Homo sapiens: one gene and its partners. The protein of the gene in region 2 interacts with the protein of the main gene of each other region in a pairwise test. Each region holds a gene or a part of one and is shown on either strand. Other genes may lie near its edges.

Region 1 (7,730 bases), on a different chromosome or scaffold from region 2:
ATCTTTATTTATAAAAATCCTTAGGTCTTATTAGGGCCTTTTCCCAGTCCCTATGAGAACATGGGCAGTTGCTTAGGGTAACCAATTTTGGGAAAATTATTTTTTGGGGAATAGGTCATAGAAGAGGAGATATAGACAAGATAGGGCAAGTAAAGAAATGACACACTACCATTCCCATTTGTGAATTGCTGCTTCAGAGAAAACTGTTACTGAGGAAGGTGGGTCATATCTCCCAGGTATGTTGGGTTAGACAACACTGGAATAGTAGGACCAGAGGGGAAAGAGCTGGAAGACAAAGGAGTTGGAAGAAAGGTAAGAGGAATGCTTGTATGTTAAGTGTTTGTATTTTTGGCATGTTGTTTAATTTAGTTCACTGATGCTGACGTTTAGTCAAAGATAATCAAAGAAAGCAGTATGGAAGAGTATTTCAGACACCATGAAATAGTGGGAAAGGCCCTGGGCCTGGAATCAAGTTAACTGGGTTCTAATTTTTCAATCATGTGACTTAGACTAATGACCATCTTTTGGTTTCCAAGTTTTCTTTCTTGTAAAACGATGGTGCTAAATGATATTCAAAGCTATTCTAGTTCTAAAATTCAACAGTATAATTCTAAATATGAAAGTACATGTGGACTCTAGTTCTCCAGACTTCCTGAAGCCCTGCTACTCTTTTAGAAAAGGCTGCTGGTTTAGTTCTCTAACTTGTTTCCATAATATTGGAGCTGAAGTTGTGTGAACAGTGGTATCTCAAGCAGCATGCAAAAGCAGTTGGGAGGGTGGGAGTGCATGACAGTGAGTGGGTGAACGGATTAAAGAGAAAAGGGTTGGAAGAGAGGAGAGTGTGTGAAAGAGAAGAGCAGGCCTCCCTCCTTTGTCATTCTCCTGCTATAATCTCCAATAACAGCTATTCAGAGCCAAATACCAAAATGAAGGCATGAAAATGGCTTGGACTTTGAGTTAAATAGATCTGATTTTGAATCCAATCTCTGGAATCAAGTTTCTGTTTCCTTCTCTGTGTGATACTTTTGGTTGGCAGCTATTGTGAAGTTTAAATGAAATATTATTACCCAGCAGATAGAGGTGTTCAGTACAAATAGGCCTCCCCAAATTGGCTCAATCCTTTCCCCATCTTGCCCATAATATAAAAGACTAGCTAAAGAAACAAACATACAGGGCTGCTTAGCGATCTTTATCTAGAGCATGTAAATAACATGCAGTGGGGAAAGAAGGGTTCTAAGAAGAGGAAAAAGCTACAACCATGAAGCCCCTCCTTTGTGTAGCCTAACAATTCTCTGATTCCTGAAAGCCACAGAAATGTTTATTATCAAAACAGCATCCCTAACTGCCTTTCAACACTTTACCGACAGGAAGTCTCACTGCTCAGGTATAGGAAGTAGAACGAGGAAGCTCCCGAAGTTAGCAAAACTGGATCCTGAAGTGACACCCGCTTCCTGCTCTTCCACTCAGGAAAGCCGGGAACCTTTTCCCAAGCGGAGTCCTGGGGAAGCAGAAAACCGGGAAAGGCAAAGCCCCTTCTTCTCCTGTTTCTCTAGGTCGCTTGCTTAGAACCCTTTAGGGTTCTAACGCAGTTTCTGCTCGCAGGGAATGTGGGCCCTGGCGGTATTAGCACCCAGCCTCTGAGAACTTTCAGCACCGCGGACAGCGCCATTCCCTGCACTCAGTCGGAGGAGGAGAGCTACCTTGCCCCCAGCGCTCTCCTAGACCCTATACCTAGGGGGAGGCAGGGTGACATCCTGCGGCCCTTGGGCAATTCGGGCCAGTGACGTTCACCGACACTCAGGCGGGGATCCCTTCGCCAGAGCCAGTTCCTTTGAGTGTCTCCGCTCAAAATCTCAAGGAAACGAGCTTCACACAGGTGGGGGGATGAGGAGTGCCAGAACAGGAGCGAGCCCCGCTGCTCTAGCCTTCCTGCATCTCTTCTCGCCTTTGCTTTGCTCACTCTTCAATCGCAATATAAAATACTCATTTGGGGAGGGGGCAGGGTGACACAGGAGAGAGAAGGAGGGTGGGGGCTGCATCCCGCGTGGCCACGCAGCCCTAACCTGGCCCTCTTGGATTAGAGGGGAGCTGATGTGCTTTGGAATGGGAGAAGAGAGGAGACTGAGGGTTGAAGCAGTGCAGGAGAGCTCCCCTTGCTGGGGCTGCCGGCTCTGGGCAGGGAGCTTCCCTGGACACCGCTCCCGTCACGTCCTCTTCGCCGCTCCCGGGAGAGTCACCACTCTCCGGGGACAGACGCCCCTCGGGGCGCCACCATCCTGGTCGGGGTGCTGGGCTCGGCGGGAGTCCCTTTGAGGAGTTTGCTCCCAGGTAAAAGGGCAGACGTTGCTCCCGACCTCCCCGGAGTCTGCGGCCGGAAAAGCGTCTCCGTTTCATGGTCTCGGTCCGAGGCGGAGAACGGAGCTGCCCGTGCGGGGTGCGCGCCAAGGCGGGGGACAGGACGGGCCCGGCGTCTGCCGAGACCTAGGCTGCCCGCATTCCGCTCGCGGCTCCCCTTCTGCCTCCCGCTCTAGCGGCGCCGGAGCCGCGCTGGCCCCCGCCCCGCCCGGCAGCTCCCGCGAGTCAGAGCCCGGTGCCCCCAGACCGCGGGCAGTCGGGGCCTCATTCCGGGCCAGAGCAGGAAAGAGCCCGACCCACCTCCTCGGTTCTTCCAGGGAACCCCTTCTCGGAGGGCGCCCTGGGCCTCCGCGCCATATTCCTGGTCCCCCGCTCCCGGTGACTCCGGCTCCCTGGGTCATTCCGGGAGAGGCGGCCATCCCAGTTGCAGGGGTCCCGCTGGGGCGCGGGGGGCGCGGAGGGGGACAAACGGCAGCGAAGGGGGCCGTTCACTTACCGGGGTCGGGGCTGGAGGCGACGAGCTGGCTGCCAAGGCTGGTGGCTGGCAGTCCGCACTTACTGCGCGGAGCTGTCTCTCTAGCTGGGATGGGAAGTGGTGGTGGCGGCAAAGGAAGGCAGGAGGCAGCCGCTGCTGCTGAACAGCTCCTCAATTATTCAGATTGGGCCCCCACCCCCCGAACCCCTCCCCGTGCCTGCTCGTCCTCCCTCCAGCTCGCCTGTCTCCGCCTCCTTGGAGTCACATGGCCTGCCCAACCCCTTACATACTGGGCCCAAGCCTGGCACCAGACCACCTCCCACCTGGCCCCCCTGCCTTCCCCTCTGTCTGCCGCTCACAACTCCTCGCTGGCCTTCTGAGCCTCCAGTTGTGACCTCCAGTGTCTTATGTCAGGCTGCAGGGAGGTTGAGGGGGCCGTGGATGGGGGCAGTTCTTTGCCCTGGGAAAGCAGGGACCAGCAGGACTCTGCAATGTCTGTGCGTTGGGAAGGCATCTGCCGCAGCTCTGCCCCTGCTAGACTGGGCTGTCCAGACCTCCTTCCTGCCCTCTGGAAGCTTCCCTCATCCTCTGCGGAGCCTTCGTTGCTCTTAAACTTCCACATCCCTGAGCCCTACAGGAAAGAAAAAATGAGAGAGGTTGATTTCTCCTCTCCTCCTAAAGAAGACAAGACCCACCTCTGTCTTCAAAGCTTAAGTTTATCGTTGGGTTCACAACATCTTATGGGTGCAAAGATCATGGACTTGAGATTTGAAGAGCCATTAGGATTCCAATCTGTATGACCTTGGAGCATTTAACTTTCTAGCTTTTCTTCTCTCGTCTGTGAAATAACCACCTTGCAGTATTGTCATGAGATTGAGAAATCATCATGTTCTTAGAATTGCCTAGCCTAGAGTTGGACAGGTATTTGGAGCTCAATAAAGGAGAGTTCTTTTTCCCCCACCTTTGTTAAAATAAATTTCACAAGGCAAGAAGGATGTGATGTGTGCTAATACAGTGAAAGCATCTTTTAAACATGGAAGGAGGCATCTGTGAGGTCAGGCTAGACAAGTACCAGTCTAAACGGAGACAAGAGTGAGATAAGGTTTCTGTTTTGTATTAGCTCCTTTAAGATGAGTGTCCTAGAGCCAGGTTATGTCCCAAAAGGATTGGGACTAGATGGGACCAACCCAGGCATGCTTGGCCACATCACCGAATGAATTATTTAACAAGCATTGAGTAGACTGATTTGGATGAAAGTTATCTACATAAATTCTTGCACTTTGGCCCAAGCCCTCAAAACACATGGGAGGCAACAAAATGTAACTCTCCTATCCTTGGAAATGAATTCACTGGGCTTGTGTTTGGGGAGAATACTGGCTGACTGATACTCCTCTAGGGTGGAGCAGTTCAAATCTAGCTCTACTTTGTGGGTCTGCCCTGGGCTCTTCCCAGAAAGTTGCTTGATCATTGCCAGGACAGTCTTGGTTAGTCCACCTACCTCAAGCTTGTTACTGCCTTCGATGAGCATCTAAGCCTGACAATATCCCCATATTTTAAGCTTTGAGTAGTTCTGCAGGATATGTTAGACCTCCTGGGATCACCAAGAAGCTGTGAGACATTGTAGGAAAAGTGCAAAGTTAAAAAATCAGAAATTTGGAATCTCAGTGCAGGTTCTGCCAGCTACTTATCATATGATTTTTCACAAATCACTTAAATTGTCAGACTCTCATCTTCAGAATGGGAAAGGAATGTCTACCTGCCTTCTATATAAGATGGTTGTGATGTTTAGATGGGATAGCACATGAGAAGTCACTGTAAAAGGTAAAGAGTATGAATACTATGGGCTGAAGAAAACCCTGAGTCTATTCTAGTCCAAATGAATTATGAGGGTGATAAGATGGGAAGATGGGATTTGTCATGGAATATGCAGCTACTAAAATGTTGGTGTGTTGCTCTAAGTCTGCATGTATGCCTGTAGCTCAGGGGATGTGATTATTGGAGAACTGCATTCTTTGTTTCACCTTTTTCTGGATAAATTTCTGATTTAAATCTCCATATTTCCCTGGCCTTTTATTTCTGGAACACCAGCCACAATCACAATAGTTATGAATATTTACTATCTGAGAAAAGTTTGTGCCTATATTTCAAGACAGCAGGGTTTAGACTTTTCTGCCTTTGCTAGGTAAAATTGACTTGGGTTGGTAATTCAAAATGGCTTCGATTTCAAAGAAAAAAAATTTGGATTCTAGGAACAAACTCTAGACATTCATCAGCAGCTTGAATGATGATATGTGTTTCTAGTCCACTGCCAATAAACTCAATGAAATCCTCACACAAACCAGGAACTCCTGGAACCCTCCAACCTTAAGCAGATTCCAATCCTATCTCCTGGTGTACTTCCCCTTAATATTCTTTGGAAATTGCTAATCTGGACCTCTTTGTATTTAGGGAGACTAAAAGACCAGAAAGTGTCAACCATGCTTCTATATATACCACTGAAAAAATTGTCTGGGCTAGGTAAAATGCTGCTTCTGACTCCTGCCTACCTCTCCACTGACATCAAGAAACATGAGAAAGGGAAAAATAAGCATGAAATCATTTAATTTGGCCATGATGCCTTTATGAGCAGTTACCTGGACAAGCATAAATTTCAGAAAATTTTGAACAGTTTCACCAGAAATTGCTCAAGGACTCTGAATATATATTTTTTCAAAGCAGTTTTAAATGTCCAAGGCAACTTTACCCAGTGAAGAGCAGAAAAGGAAACTTAGAGAACCGATCTTGCATAGATTGCAGTAGAAAGTTATACCTTAGCAATGATTTCTTGTAAAGGTTTCCCTTGGGTCCTCCCTTACTTATAAGCTCTTGTCTTTTGCATGATGATTGTTGACTTTATCATAAGCCACTGCAAACACTTTCCAGCTGTAAGTAGAGCATTAATGAACAAAGAAATATAAATGCAGCAGACAAAAATTTAATTATTTAGAGCCATGCACAGCCGCAACAATTGGTGAAGTTCCAGAGTTCAACAATGATCTTACAAAGTGACTACTAACTAGATCTTTAAAGTACACATCCTTGTTTTCTTGTTCCTACAGTTGAAATGTGGAAGTGTTGATTCATGTATTCAACATATTCTAGACACTTAGGATACAGCCATGAACAATACAGAAATGGTTCTGCTCTCCTTGAGCTTACAGTCTAGAGCAGGGGGTCAGACCACAAACAAGTAAACAAAGCAGTGGAGATAAGTATCATGATGGAAATACAACAGAACAATATAATGAAGAGTAAAGGGGCACCACTTAAGTGATAGAGAACTAACATAAGCAAATGTGGGGCTCAGAGACAAAAGCGATTACTCTCCAGGGAAGCAGCAGAGCACTCTTATCTAGGGCCTTTTGCCAAAATAGGGTCATTAAAAGGGTAACGACTAAAATCCCTCATGACTGACCTGCTTGAATGGATGGTGGTTAAGCCATGAGGGAATTGGCCAGATGCCTTAAAAACAATTCTCCATTTTTGTCTCATGATTCATGAAAATGAGTACCTGATGCTTTCTTCTAGAAGGACCCCAAGCTCATCAGTGCCCCTGACTCTTGCCTCTGAGCAGATTCAAAACCTGAGAAACCAAAGACACTGTGATAGCCTGGCTAGAGGCTCGTCTGGAACTTTCCAAAGGGAGCAGTACCTTTGAGCAGCAGGAAGACAGAAAATAAGACACACAACCAGAACCTAGCATTACCATAGGCACACCATAAAGATCTATTAAACAAACAACCTGCTGCTAGGATCCTACCAATTGGACTGGAAATTTATAAGCAAATTATCTATGAGTAAATTATCCTCTAGGTATTTAAATTTCAAAAGGAAGAAGGAGGATGCTGACCTAAGCATGCTCATTTTATTCCTAAATTTACAATAGAATATAGCACTTTCCCCACTCCTACCCCATGCAGAGTAAATAAAGTTGCCTAATCAGTGAAACTATGGAGTCAAGACAGAGGTCAGGACTGTCAAACCAATGGAGTTCCTTGACATGGAAGGAATCGTTAAAGCAAACAGTTCTTCCCATTTATTATGTGTTTCCTTCCTTTAATTACATTCACTTTCCTAAATTAATTTATTTTAAAGAGGTTTTCATCACTACCTTAAATAGAAAACTGATATCAGTTGCCATAAATACAAGGCAACTATTTAAACAAACACAATGAGAATAAAACAATGCTATTATAGTCAAGATAAATACCTTTGCCTTCCCAGGAACCGAAGGCTTGCTTTCTCCTTGTTAAAAAGGAAATTAGCAGCTGTTAGTGAGGTGTTAAAGACATTGACATCAAACTGTCTTTCTCCATAAAGTAACCAAAAAGATTGAATGATAAGTGGAAAAGGGATAACCTTCCCACTAGGTGATTACAGGCCATTTAATGTTGAGTCCTAGTACCATCTAAATCAATATTTCTCTAACTCTAACGTGCATAGAAATCATCTAGGGAACCTTGTTAAAAATGCATAATTAGATTCAGTAGGACTGGGGTGGGACTCAAGAGCTCGCATTTCCAGCACAATCCCAGTGACACTGATGCTCCTGATTCTTGGACTACTCTTTGAGTAGCAAGGATCTTTGAATAGCAAGTGCCTTTGATGCTGTATTTTCCATATTTTGGGAGATACTAGCTCTTATTTTAAAGATGAGAAAAGTTAGGACTCAGAGGGTTTGACTAACCTCGGTTAGTTTTCTTGTTCTAACAAGTGGAATGTGGAAGTGTTGATTATTTATTCAACATATTCTAGACACTTGGGATACAGCCATGAACAATACAGAAATAGCTTTGTATTAGAACTATTTAGTTGGTAGGTGAGCCAGAGCTAAAACTTACATTTCACAGATCTGTCTCCA
Region 2 (4,691 bases):
TGTAGCTCCCGTTCAGCCTCCAGAGCTGAGGCAGGACCTCATCTCCAGTGAGTCTGTCTGCAGGAGGCAGGCCAAGCCCTAGCGTAGGACTCAGGAGAACTCACGCCAGAGAACTCACATCCAGGCCCTGTCTCACTGGATGACCCAGGGACATGTTTCCTCTCTCTGGAATTCAATTTCCTCTTGCGCAAATGAGGTTTCTGGTCCCTTTCAGGAGATTTCCTCTGATTGCTTCCCTGCAACACAGCGCAGACATGCTCCCAGAACCACACCCCCACAAGCACTGGTTTGCATGAGCCCAACAGGAAGAACTTTGCAAAGCTGGGGCTGGGGACAGGGAGGTGGGGGAGGTGAAAGGGAGGAGGGAACCAGGGCCCCTGGGGCAATGGCAGAGGCTCAGTCCCAGCCACAAGGTCTCTGTGAAGAGGAGCTGTTGTTTCCCAGCGCACCCCACCTCCACTGTTGCCCCCAGTGAGTGCTGGACACAGGAACCTCAGCCACAGGGTTTTGCTGCTATGGCTGAACTTTTATTGAGCGTGTTGTCTGTGCAGAGCGCTGTGCACGAGGTGGAAGCAAACGAGGGAGGAAAACAAAGCCACACCCCTGCCCACAGAGGATGGAACAGAAGGGCCGCTGAGGTCAGGAAGGCAAGGTTGCCACTAGGTGTTACTGTGGGGCCCAGATGCCGCCATGCTGTTCACCCTTCAAAGGGTGGCATCTCAGCCCACGCAGTCCTCCTCCAGCTTCGCAGCAGCCAGGACCTCCCAGTGCAGTGACCTGGCCTCCCCAGGTAGGAGGCCTAACCAGAGTTGAAAATGATCCTGACGCTCCTGAGGGCTGCTGGGAGATGAAAGGGGCAAGGGCAGTGGCGGCCTGGGGAAAGAGGAAAGAAAGAAGGGGAAGCAGGGAGGGCTCCAATACGGAGGCCGCGCTGGGGCGATCACTGGTTCATCCACAGCCACAGGTTGGCAATGCTGGCCGACACCAGCACGGCGATGATCAGGGTCTCCCTGTGGCGCCAGGTGGCGCCCTGTTCCTCCAGGGCGCGCAGACGCCGGTTGACTGCATACAGCTGCAGAGGAGTCAAAGGCAGGGCTGCTGAGCGAGGCTCTTCTCCAGAAGCCCACAGCACAGCCATGGGAAAAGCATAAAGTTAGAGCAAGAAGGGGCTTGATTGCCCTTTGGCGGTGGAGCGGGGAGCGCCCCTAGTGAGAAGCAGGAGGCTGGGCCAGGTCCGCGGGACCAAAGACCTGGCTGCTACGTCTGCAGGCCCCACTTTTGCCTTCTCCCTTATGTTCACTTCCCTTCTCTGGAAGAGACCAGCCCATTCCAGCTGCGCCGGGGAGCCAAGGAAGAAAGGATCTCCTCCTAAGAAGGTCTGGGTTTGGTTTGAACAAAGGCGACCCCTCTCTCAGACCCTTAGGTATCACTCTCTCTCTGGACATAGAACCCTTATCCTTGTATGTTCCCTCTTCCTCCACCTTTTATCTGCCCCTATTCCCTACCAGCATCTCAGGGACAGCAGTGAGTTTGAGGCTGGACATCTATGCGGGGTGTCAGAGCCATGGGGATGAGGAGGAAGAGGAAGGGAATCTGCCCCACCTCCAGCGCTAAAGGGAAAGATGACTGTAAGGGACTACAGGACCCCAGCTGTCGAGCCCTGCCTATTCCAAGGCACTGTGATTCTGCTTGCACCCACCGATTGGGTCCCTCCTCACCTGTCTTCTCATGACTTCCATCTCCAGTACATTGAACTCTTCCAGGCTAGTCTGCGCCACTGCATCTGTCCCTGGGTTGCTGGGAGAGAAAAAAGACAGATGGTCAAAGCTGCTGGTGGTCCCTGGCAGGGAGCACAAGAAGGCAGTGAGGTCAAGCAGGTAAGGTCGTGATCTTCTTGGACAGTGACTCTATCAGCCTCCAGTCCTCTTCCATGGTAAAGAGGGCCTAGGGCCTTGAGGGCTGGGAGTCAGCCTGAGCTAGCCTGAGCCAGCCTGGCCCAGCCCAGTCCAGCCCAACTCGGCTAGGCCGCAGAGCACTGGGATGCCCCAAATGGGCAGGGAGCCAGGGTACTCATGGTCTCTGACAGGGAGGCATTCCAGGCCCTCATGACTCCATCCTGGCCAGGCTGCTCACCAGCCCCTCTGCCCCACTCCGGGCCCTGTCTGAGCAGCCAGGGCCCACAGACCCTCAGCTCTTACCGATCATAATGGAAACGTATGCCTTGGAAATTGCCAGCGTACTCCTGGAGATGGGCATCCCCATGGCCTGATTCTCTCAGCATTCTGGGCTTTGGCAGCTGGGACCCCTGAAGAAAGGAATGGTCAGTAAAGTAGCCTGCCCAACCCCACATGAGTGGCTTCTCCAGTTTGCCCAGAGCCAATGGTGCACCCCATGGGGAATCACATGGTGCCTGGTCTCTGGAATCAAGGGCTGGCAGCTTCAGGCCGCTAGGAAAGCTTGGGAACCCCACACAGGCTGCTGGCCACCACCCCACCCACACCATGCTCCTCGGTAGCTCTTGGTCATCCAGGCAGGCTGTGGCAAAAGAGGAGCAGTAACAGGGGTCCCTGTCCTCTGCAAGAACTTTCACATGCAGGTATTAGCTGAGAGGCTGAGCAACCTACTGAAGGAGAACGTAAAACCTTGATTGGCAGCCCAGGCCATGGAGGCCTGGCGAGATGCCTTTACTTTCCAAGGATGCGTGGTAAATGTCAGGGCTAAGGCTAGAACCCTGGCTACTGGGAAACCAGCAACTCCTCTGGGTAAGCTCAGCCAGCCATCCCTGTGGCTTTCATTTTTATCCATCTGCCAACAACTCCCTAGCATGTACATCTCTGGCCCAGAGCCCTTGGGCCAGGGCCATCTGATGCCTTTGAAGCATCAGTGGGGGATAGAGGAAAAGAGCGTGGCTTTTGGTGCCAGACCTGCCTGGGCTCAAATCATAGTTCTAGGTTTCCAGTTCAAGATGAAATGTTTCACAAGCTGCTTATTTAACACACACCACATGCCAGGGACCATGCCATCCTCTAAGCCCTTACCAATACTAAGTGACTGATTCCTCGTCACAGCCCTGTGAAACGGTATCATTATCATCCCGTTTTGAAAGTAGGGGAAACTGAAACACAGAGAGGTTAATTACCTTGTCCAAGTCACACAGCTAGGAAGTAGCAGAGCAGTAATTTGAACCCAGGACATTTCAGTCCAGAGGTTATACTCTCAGCCATTACACTACGATGTCCCTCATATTTAACACTCCTTCCTGTTAAGGCTCCACTAATTGCCAGTGAAGACAGTAAAACAGTACAAACCCATAAGACAGAAGACAACACAAGAGGCATCAGCTAATGAAAGAATTCAATAAAATTCTGGAATCTAGGAAGTGTCCATGGAGGAACTAGGCCTCATTGTGGATGGGAAGCAGATGGGACTCAGCTGACAAAGGAGGCCCCCGCCAGCAGCATCCAGAGAGGACTTAGACCTGCAAGGACAATGGCGGCATATCACAAGAAAGGAGGGGAGGGAGGAAAACAGGGCCTTTAACTAATGATCTATGTAGGAAGCAGTCATCCACACTTCTCACTCCTGGTTGGCAGCCAGGCACTTACCGCCAAGCCAAAACCTGAACCAAATGAATAAGAAAGCTGGGGTGAAAGTGACACAAAATAAAACCGTCTTCATTCTGGCAGGGTTCAGGGTGCCCCACATGACAGCCAGTTCCTTACCCGCTCACCCTGCTGAAGTAGAGCCTGTCATTTGAGAGGCCTGACTGAGGCGCACAGAGTACTGGGTTAGCTCTTCTATTTGCCTCATTCTTACAAAAAAATAGACAACCAAGGCTCACCTGTCACCTGAGAAATATCTGCAGCCCTCTTCTGTTCCGAAGTAACAACATCAAACTGAAGGTGGATCAATTTCTGTGTAAAGGATTTTCATAGGAACTTTGCCACTGCACTCTGTTTGTTGCAATAAGGCATAACTAATCTTTCTCAAGAGGAGCACACAGATATTGGTGCAACTTTTTTATGAACCGTAGTTCATGGTCACAATATTTTATTTTCTTAAGATACTTCAAAAATTGCATTAAAAAGATAATGGGTATTAGGGAGACCCCATGACTATAATTTGATCAATGATGTCTCTTAGAAAAATTTTCAGACCATTGCTTGATTTTCCTATAAATTGGAATCAGAAGGACAAAAAAAATTTTGAGAGATTTGAAGGCAAAAAATAAGGATGAATGGCTGATGGCTGGAATTTGTTTGTTTGTTTCAGATAACATAGTTTGTTGTTAACCCACCAAGTCCCAACTTCTCTCTGTTAATCATTTCAAAAAATGTTATTTTAATTTCCATGTAATTTTAAAGGCACACTGCTTTTTTCCAAGTCAGCAGGATAGCATTATTAACTTTTCTCACCCTTGCATATTATGGTTCTCCTAGAGGCAGTTCCATTAACTGTTTTATTCAAAAATAAAGGAATGAATGAATTAATAAATAAATAGAATTAGTAAATTAGATTTCCTAATTCTAAATTTCTAAATTTAATTTATAAATTCAATATAATGTCTATATTTTCAAACAGTCTACCTCTAGCCCTTGTAGTCAACTTTAATTAAACCAGAGATTATATCTCCCCTAGTCTCAGGGACATTAGTGGTTTGCAGGAGCCTGACCTCCTGGAGCAACTTGATT
Region 3 (7,031 bases), on a different chromosome or scaffold from region 2:
TGGACAGCAAAGCTGAAAGAGCTTTGTAACAGTGGGGTTGCAGTCACCCACCCCTAGACACTACTGCAAGGCCAGAGCATAAAGCACTCGCCCCAGCCTCTGCACCTGCCCTTCTGCATGCTCCAGTCCTGCAAGGGGTTTGAGCAGCAACAGAACAGGTGAACCACACCCACCCCACGTCCTGCAAGGGGAATCAGGGAACTCTCCCATTTCAACACCACAGGATACTATTCAGCCATAAAAAAATAATGAAATTATGTCATTTGCAGCAAATATGGATGAAACTGGAGGACATTATGTTAAATGAAATAAGTCAGGAGGGAAAGTTAAGCATTGCATGTTCCACTCGTGGAAGCTAAAAGGAGTTAATTTTATAGAAGTAAAAGTAGAAGGAAGAATAGTAGAGAGTGGGCAGAGTAGGAGGAAGGGAGAGATAGGAAGAGATGTATTAAAACATACAAAATTACAGCTAGATATGAATAACTTCCAGTGTTCTACAGCACTGTAGCATGAAAACAGTTGAAAAATAATATATTATGCAGTTTCAAATAGCTAAGAGGAGGTTATTGAATGCTCCCAACACAAAGCAATGATCAAAGTTTGAGATAATGAATATGCTAATTACCCTGATCTGATCACCATATGTTACATGTATCAAAACATCACTATATACCCCATGAATATGAATATCCCATTTATTTGTCTATTAAAAAATAAAATTAAATAAAAAATAAAATAAAAAACCTCTTCAACAAAGTAGTGACAAAGGGAACTTCCTATACCTGATTATGAGTGTCTACAAAGAACTACAAAAACATCACCTTTCATCATGAAAGCTAAAAGCTCCCCCTAAGATCAGGAGCAAGGCAAGGATGTTCGTTCACTCACACTAAACAATGTATTTGAGGTTCTGGCCAGTGCTATGAGGTAAACAAACAAATGAGCAAAACAAAACCCCCAAATTTCCTTCCACCCAAATCAGCAGCACCTCAAATCTCTCTGGAGATACTAAAAATAATTTTCAAAATGCTGTTTATTATTTTCTGAACTCTTTCTCTTTCCTCTGGGTCAACTGTTCTATTTGTTGTTGTTCTGTCTCATTCATGCTTTTGGGTTTTCTTCACATGTGTGTTGAGTCCTCGCCCCTCTTTCCATACTTATGACTGAGGTATATGTAAAGTGCTCTATTGCAGTTATAGAATTCTGTGTCCTCCAACAGCTTTCAAGTTTTTACATGGGAAGACAGACTGGAAGGCCTTGGAAAGCTTGGCGGAGAGTTCACAGAAGTGAAGTCCTGGTGCCGTCTCTTCCTGCTTTGTCCTTGGACTCTGGCATAATGCTGAAACAGAAGTTTACTGGAACACATTTTTCCCCCTAATGTAGAAAGAACAGCATCATCATGAGGAGACAGAGTCTAAAGTCAGGAGATCTGTCTCAGATCCAAGGGCTGACAGCAGAGCCACGTGTGTGATCTTGGAAACACCCCAAGTTTCTGTCTCTCCACGTGTAGGATGAGGACAGCACCATGACCCATCCCCAAGCGCTTCGAGGATTCGATGGCCAAGTGCACTTGGAGGGCGTGGCAGAAAAGGTGCTCCATCGATGAGCGTTCCCTTCCCCCTTCTTCCTTCAGTGAAGAAAAGGCTCAGCCCCCATGGGCACCGCTTCTAGGTGGTGACCGTCATGTACTTCAGGTCTGAGAGGTTTTGCATTGCCACAGGTAAGTGCCATTCAACATCTGGTCACCATCTCTAAGGGCAGGAGGGTGGTCAGGCCTCTGCACCTGGACTCCATCCACTTCATTTCATGGCTGTAAACTCAAATTGTATATTTTGTAGACCTACTTCATTACTTGTCCCTGAAGTCTCTCTGAGTTTATTTGTGTGAAAGGAGAAGTGGCTTCCCACTGCTGGTATTCCCAGAGACAGCAGTTTTTAGCTACTGGCTGGGAAGTGGATGAAGCAGTGTTCACATACCTGGGAAGAGGCCTGGGCTGTCGGACATCAGGCCCAATTATCACTACCCAGGATGCCCTGAGGGCACCCCCACAGGATGCCTGTCTTGTCACCCTGAGCGCAGTGGCACTAGATAATGAGCGGCATGGCACCTCTGCACTCCCGCAAAGCCCCAGAGGTCCCCTACATCTACCTGTCTAATGTCAAGCCATGCTCTACTTGGCGACTTAAGGTGGAGCAGGACAGATCATAAACACTTGCCGAATAGTTGAGAACCTCCCATAAATATTCTCAAAGTTAGCCATAGAACCTGTTCTTGTTACTACCACAACCTCGAAGGCAAACTGAACGCTCCACATGCCCTTGCAAACATATGTCAGACAGGCCGACCTCTTCGGACCTGGAGAGGCTCCTTCATAAATGCCAGGGATGCACCTGTCTTGGGAAAGTGATTGGGGAAAACACAGCCAGCCACCCAGTGCCCAGGAGCTCCAGCAAGGGAGCCCCGCTCAGAACCAGGGAAACGAGGGGCCCTGCTCTGAACCAGGGCAATGAGGGGGCCCTGCTCTGACCCAGGACAATGAGAAGGCCCCACTCTGAACCAGGGCAATGGGAGGGGCCCTGAACAAGGGCAATGAGGTGGCCCCCTCTGAACAAGGGCAATGAGGGGGCCCCATTCTGAACCAGGGCAATGGCTTTTTGAAAACGGCATTATTTGGGAAACAGTATCCATTTGCTATAAACCAAGTGAAGCTATACAATACTCAAAGAAGTTAAAAATCACATTTTTTTTTCTTTTTTGGCTGAGTAGAACTGCCTTCTGGAAAGAGCTCAGATCAGTATTCACTGTTCTTTTGTTTCAGTAGTTGTCATTCTGTTCAGTTAGACCATCTGAAAAAAAAAATGATGCCAAAAGTCTATGGTTTTTGGCTCTGTGGTTGCAGTACTGGCACCCAATTTGTTATCACTTCCCTATATTGTGACCCTAAGCAGTCTCTCCCACACTGACTGAGCTTGGCTGTGGGACCTGCTCTGGTCAATGAGATAGTAACATGCAGGACACAGGCAAAGACTTGACAAGCCCTCACAAAGTGGGCCCCACCTCTCTGGCTGCCGCAAAATGAAGCCTGGGACAGGATGGGTGACAGCTGGGTGATGCAGTTACCTCTGTCACTGCAGCCAACAGCCCACCAGAGGCTGGCTTCCCAGCCTATCACAGCTAGCTATGGACAAGTGAGTGAGCCCAGGTGAGACCAGCAGAACAATCACCCAGCTGAGCCCAGCTCAATTGCCGACCCTCAGAAATCATAAGCTGAAGAAAGAGTTGTTAAGGCACTGTGTTTTGGGGGTGATTTGTTATGCAGCAAATGCTAACCAATACATGACCCTTTATTATTTAATGGAATGGAGAAAACAGTAAACCAAAGAACAGCTACTGCATGTTCAATGACACTTCTAACCAGTCATTAGTATTTTGTTAATTACCGAAGAAGGGAATGAAAAGCACCATAGCTATACTGTAAGAATGTTTCTGAGAAAATCTTTGTTTTCAGAGAAAAAGGACGAAGTTAACCACCGTGGTGAGGCTCTGAAATCCTCCTTGGCATCCTGAGCCGCATGTAGAAGCAGCAGCAGCCATAATGTGTCTCCATTCCTTCTGCTCAGAGCCTGTGGAAGGGGCCATTTCTTGGTCCAGGTGAGCTCCTTGGAAGCCGACCAGAAAGTCTCACTAAAGTGCCTAAGTAAACAACTTGCTGTTTCATCGATGTTACTTTAGTATAAATGCCAACATGCTCCATCTTACGTTATATTCAAAAGTCACTAGAAATATTAATACAGAGTAGGCACCGTTATTATGACTAAAGATTCTTATTGCTGTATTATTAAAAGAATTGTTTCTGGTGGGCTTCCACTTCTGCTGCTAGATCAGAGAAGCAGGACTGGGTGGGAAAGGTTACCTCCCCAGAAGTCTATACTACTTGTCAGAGCCTTGGACCTACTAAGACAGACAAGTCTGTGTCTGCCCCCACCCATTCCTAGCTTTTATTTAAGCTCCCCTCAAGCCTCCTCTTACTCATCCTCAAGACTCAGCCGGGGGAGGGCTCCTGCCTGTGTGATGACTTCTGAACCCCGCATTGAGCTCAGGGCCCCAGACCCTCTTCAGAGCTGATGGGGTATTCCATTCCCATAACTCCTGGGGCTGCATTTTCGTGCATCTGCCTCTCTAATTCCACTCCATGCGAGTCGGGCAGCATTTACGCTTTGCTGTCAGCAAAGCCCTCAGATCTTGGAAAACTTAGTAGACAGGGCAGAGGCTTCTGAACAGAAGCCAAGCATGCTCCCAACTTTCCACAGCTGCAGCGTGAGTGCCCTCCCTTCACAGGTGTCACCAGAGGGCATTGGGGCCTGCGCAGATGCCCAGGCATCACGTCTTGGTCCTCTTCCATGCCACGACTCTCCACTCCCTGCCAGTGGGCTTCCCGGGCTCCACCGGCTGGAGTTGCACCAAAGTTTCCCTCTCCATTTCTAATCCTCCCTCCTGACTAACGCTGGATCTCTCAGCTCCTGGTTCTCAATGGGGTCTCTCCAATCCTGATCCTCTGGTCTCCTTGGCCTGTCATTCCCTTGCAATTTCTCCGGCCTTTCTATCAAGTGTGGGGTCCCATGGTTGTGGGTCTGATTCTGCTCCAAACTTCCTCCCTATTGCTTTCTCCTGCCTCCTCCACCTTCCAGGCAGAGTGCACCTTGCCAAGGGAGCCTCACCTGCTAAAGATGGTCCCACATGGCTGCAGAAAGTCACAGAGCCCTGGGTCTGACCAGATCTTCACACAAACTCATACTGCAGCTGGGCAGTTTCTCCAGGAGTCTTTTCTAGAATGGGCACTTCCCCCAGTTCATTGCTCTAGACTGTCTGCAATCTCCTCACACCCCAGGAGCTTCTCTGGCTGTGCTGATGCTCAGCCAACACGAACCCCTCCTTTTCTTCCTCTTCAACCCAGAGCCCTTCAAACTTTCCCTTACCCCACCCTTCTCTTCTCTCCCAGGCCAGCATGTGGACTTCTTCTGAGAGGCCAGCTCTCACACATACATGCTTGGAGTTCAGCTCCTGCCTCCCCAAGACCACTCCCCAGCTGCTGGCCACGATCCTGAATTTTCCATTCTGAACATTTCCTCTCCACCTACAAAAATGTTCTCGCCTACCTTAGTGAAAAACAGACATCCCTTCCCCTTTTGGCCACACACTGCCTCTGAAGGTTGGACCTGCTCGGCGGTTTCCTTCCCCACCAAACTGACGGAAAGCCTGGCACGTGTTTCCCTGACATCGCGTCCTGGGAAAACACCCCTGGCCTCACTGCAGTGGAATGACTTGGGAGGCATGGGCAGCAAACCGCTAGTCCATGGCCTGCAGCAGCTGCTCTCACCCTCTCACCGGTGCTGTCCTGGGGGGACAATGTGCCACACACTCAGCAACCACTGTGCCTACCACACTATATCCAACGTGCAGTGTGTACATCTCTGTGCATGTAATTCAAATGCTGTCACCTGCCCTCCAGTCCATTAAAGAAGCGAGTCATCTAAGAAGTCAACTTATCTTCCCTTCAGGCTATCAGTACCTACACTTTCTTCCAGCACGGTTCAGCTCTATCAACAATCTCTCAGTAGTAACTGTGGAATGCAAAGTCAAGGAACCACAGGTGACAGTAGAAGCACCTCCCAAAGTGTCCCCTGTCAAGTATATTTCCAGCCTCATGTGGCTCTAGGATCAGGTGTCCCTCTCTCATCTTGTCAATGACCTCTCTGTCTCATGGGATGCGGGAGAGCAGGGAAAACCGATGAACCCACCAGCACTGCCATCTGCAGCCATTACCTGGGGTCATCTCATACCAGAATCACCGGTGAAGCGCCCCTGGGTTTCTGTTAATCTAAGTCTTTCCTCTCCTTCTATCTTCCATAAGCACTCAAGAGTGAAGGGCACCAAGACTGCCTTTGGTTTCTGCATTTTTGCACACTAGTTTCATTCCCTAACTTTTGCCAGGCATTCATGGCTCCTGCCCTCCCTAGAATCCCCATCACACATTCTTAGAGGGCCTCTGACAAACACATCCTGTGACCTCCAGCTCCTGGAACTCCTCCTCCTCCTCCACATCGTAGGACAGGGTGTGGATTTTTATGTCATCAGCTGAGAGGTCAATGAACTTCCCATCCGGGTACTCGAGGCTGTCTTTGGTGGGCGACCGGTCCTCGATGAAGGTGGTCTCGCAGCAGTCGGCGGCCACACCGTCCCCCCAGGAGCGCAGCACGCCCTCTGAATAGAGGATGATGTTGGGCCGGTAGCGGGACTCCACTGACTGCTGCAGGGTGTTGGGGTCCAGCAGCTGCTGCATCGGCTCACTCCTGCTGCTGTCCAGGCTGGCCGGCACTGTGCTGGCCCCCACCCGGTGGCTCTGGTACTGGGGCGCTGGGTAAACAGACACCAGACCATCTCTGCTCTCGGCCATCAAGTTTCTGGTGTTAATTAAACCATTCCTCTTGCCAGCATCACTGATTTTACTGTGCACCAGCATGCTCTTCTGTTCAATGATGCCATCCATGGTACTCTCTCCCTGGCTGGGCGTCAGGCTGGTGGGCTGGGAATGTAGGTTACACTTGCCTCAGGGAAGCCATTTCTCCTGGAGGAGGAGAAAACAGAGATGAGACAAGAGAATCACACTTGAAAACAAGCTAATCACCCAGACCCACATTGTTTCAGACTGTACCAGCCAGCTGATAAACGCATAGTAACTGTGAGAGTTAGATAAAATGCAGTCCTACCTATTCAGTGAATGTTAAAAAGGGTCTGTGGGGGCGGCTAGCCAGAGTTAGCAGAAATTGATTACCTGAATCTCTATAAAGTCTCTGCTTCCAAATGAAGGAGACTGCAGGAATTGGCTCCCTTGCAGCCTAGAGGAACCTTTGATTGCTAGCAGACATCCTGAAACCCACAGGTAAACCCAATCGCATTAGCATCTGACAAGTCCATAGGAAAACAGAACTGCAAATCTGTAAAGGCGATTAGCTCTTCCCAGGTACATGGCT

The links.
Region 1: the proteins of FATE1 (region 2) and SLC7A14 interact in binary tests that used the Homo sapiens proteins (3 or more experiments, as listed by UniProt).
Region 3: the proteins of FATE1 (region 2) and SYNDIG1 interact in binary tests that used the Homo sapiens proteins (3 or more experiments, as listed by UniProt).

Annotation. Positions count from the first base shown.
Region 1 is NC_000003.12:170,583,060-170,590,789, forward strand, and holds the start of SLC7A14 (solute carrier family 7 member 14), read right to left. Parts: upstream 3,017-7,730; 5' UTR 2,852-3,016; intron 1-2,851. UniProt on the Homo sapiens protein: Imports 4-aminobutanoate (GABA) into lysosomes. May act as a GABA sensor that regulates mTORC2-dependent INS signaling and gluconeogenesis. The transport mechanism and substrate selectivity remain to be elucidated.
Region 2 is NC_000023.11:151,719,009-151,723,699, reverse strand, and holds the end of FATE1 (fetal and adult testis-expressed transcript protein), read right to left. Parts: intron 2,306-4,691; coding exon 2,199-2,305; intron 1,798-2,198; coding exon 1,719-1,797; intron 1,073-1,718; coding exon 941-1,072; 3' UTR 506-940; downstream 1-505. UniProt on the Homo sapiens protein: Involved in the regulation of endoplasmic reticulum (ER)-mitochondria coupling. Negatively regulates the ER-mitochondria distance and Ca(2+) transfer from ER to mitochondria possibly implicating it in the regulation of apoptosis.
Region 3 is NC_000020.11:24,542,614-24,549,644, reverse strand, and holds part of SYNDIG1 (synapse differentiation-inducing gene protein 1), read right to left. Parts: intron 6,626-7,031; 5' UTR 6,548-6,625; coding exon 6,068-6,547; intron 3,777-6,067; coding exon of another isoform or gene 3,774-3,776; exon of another isoform or gene 1,016-3,773; intron 1-1,015. UniProt on the Homo sapiens protein: May regulate AMPA receptor content at nascent synapses, and have a role in postsynaptic development and maturation.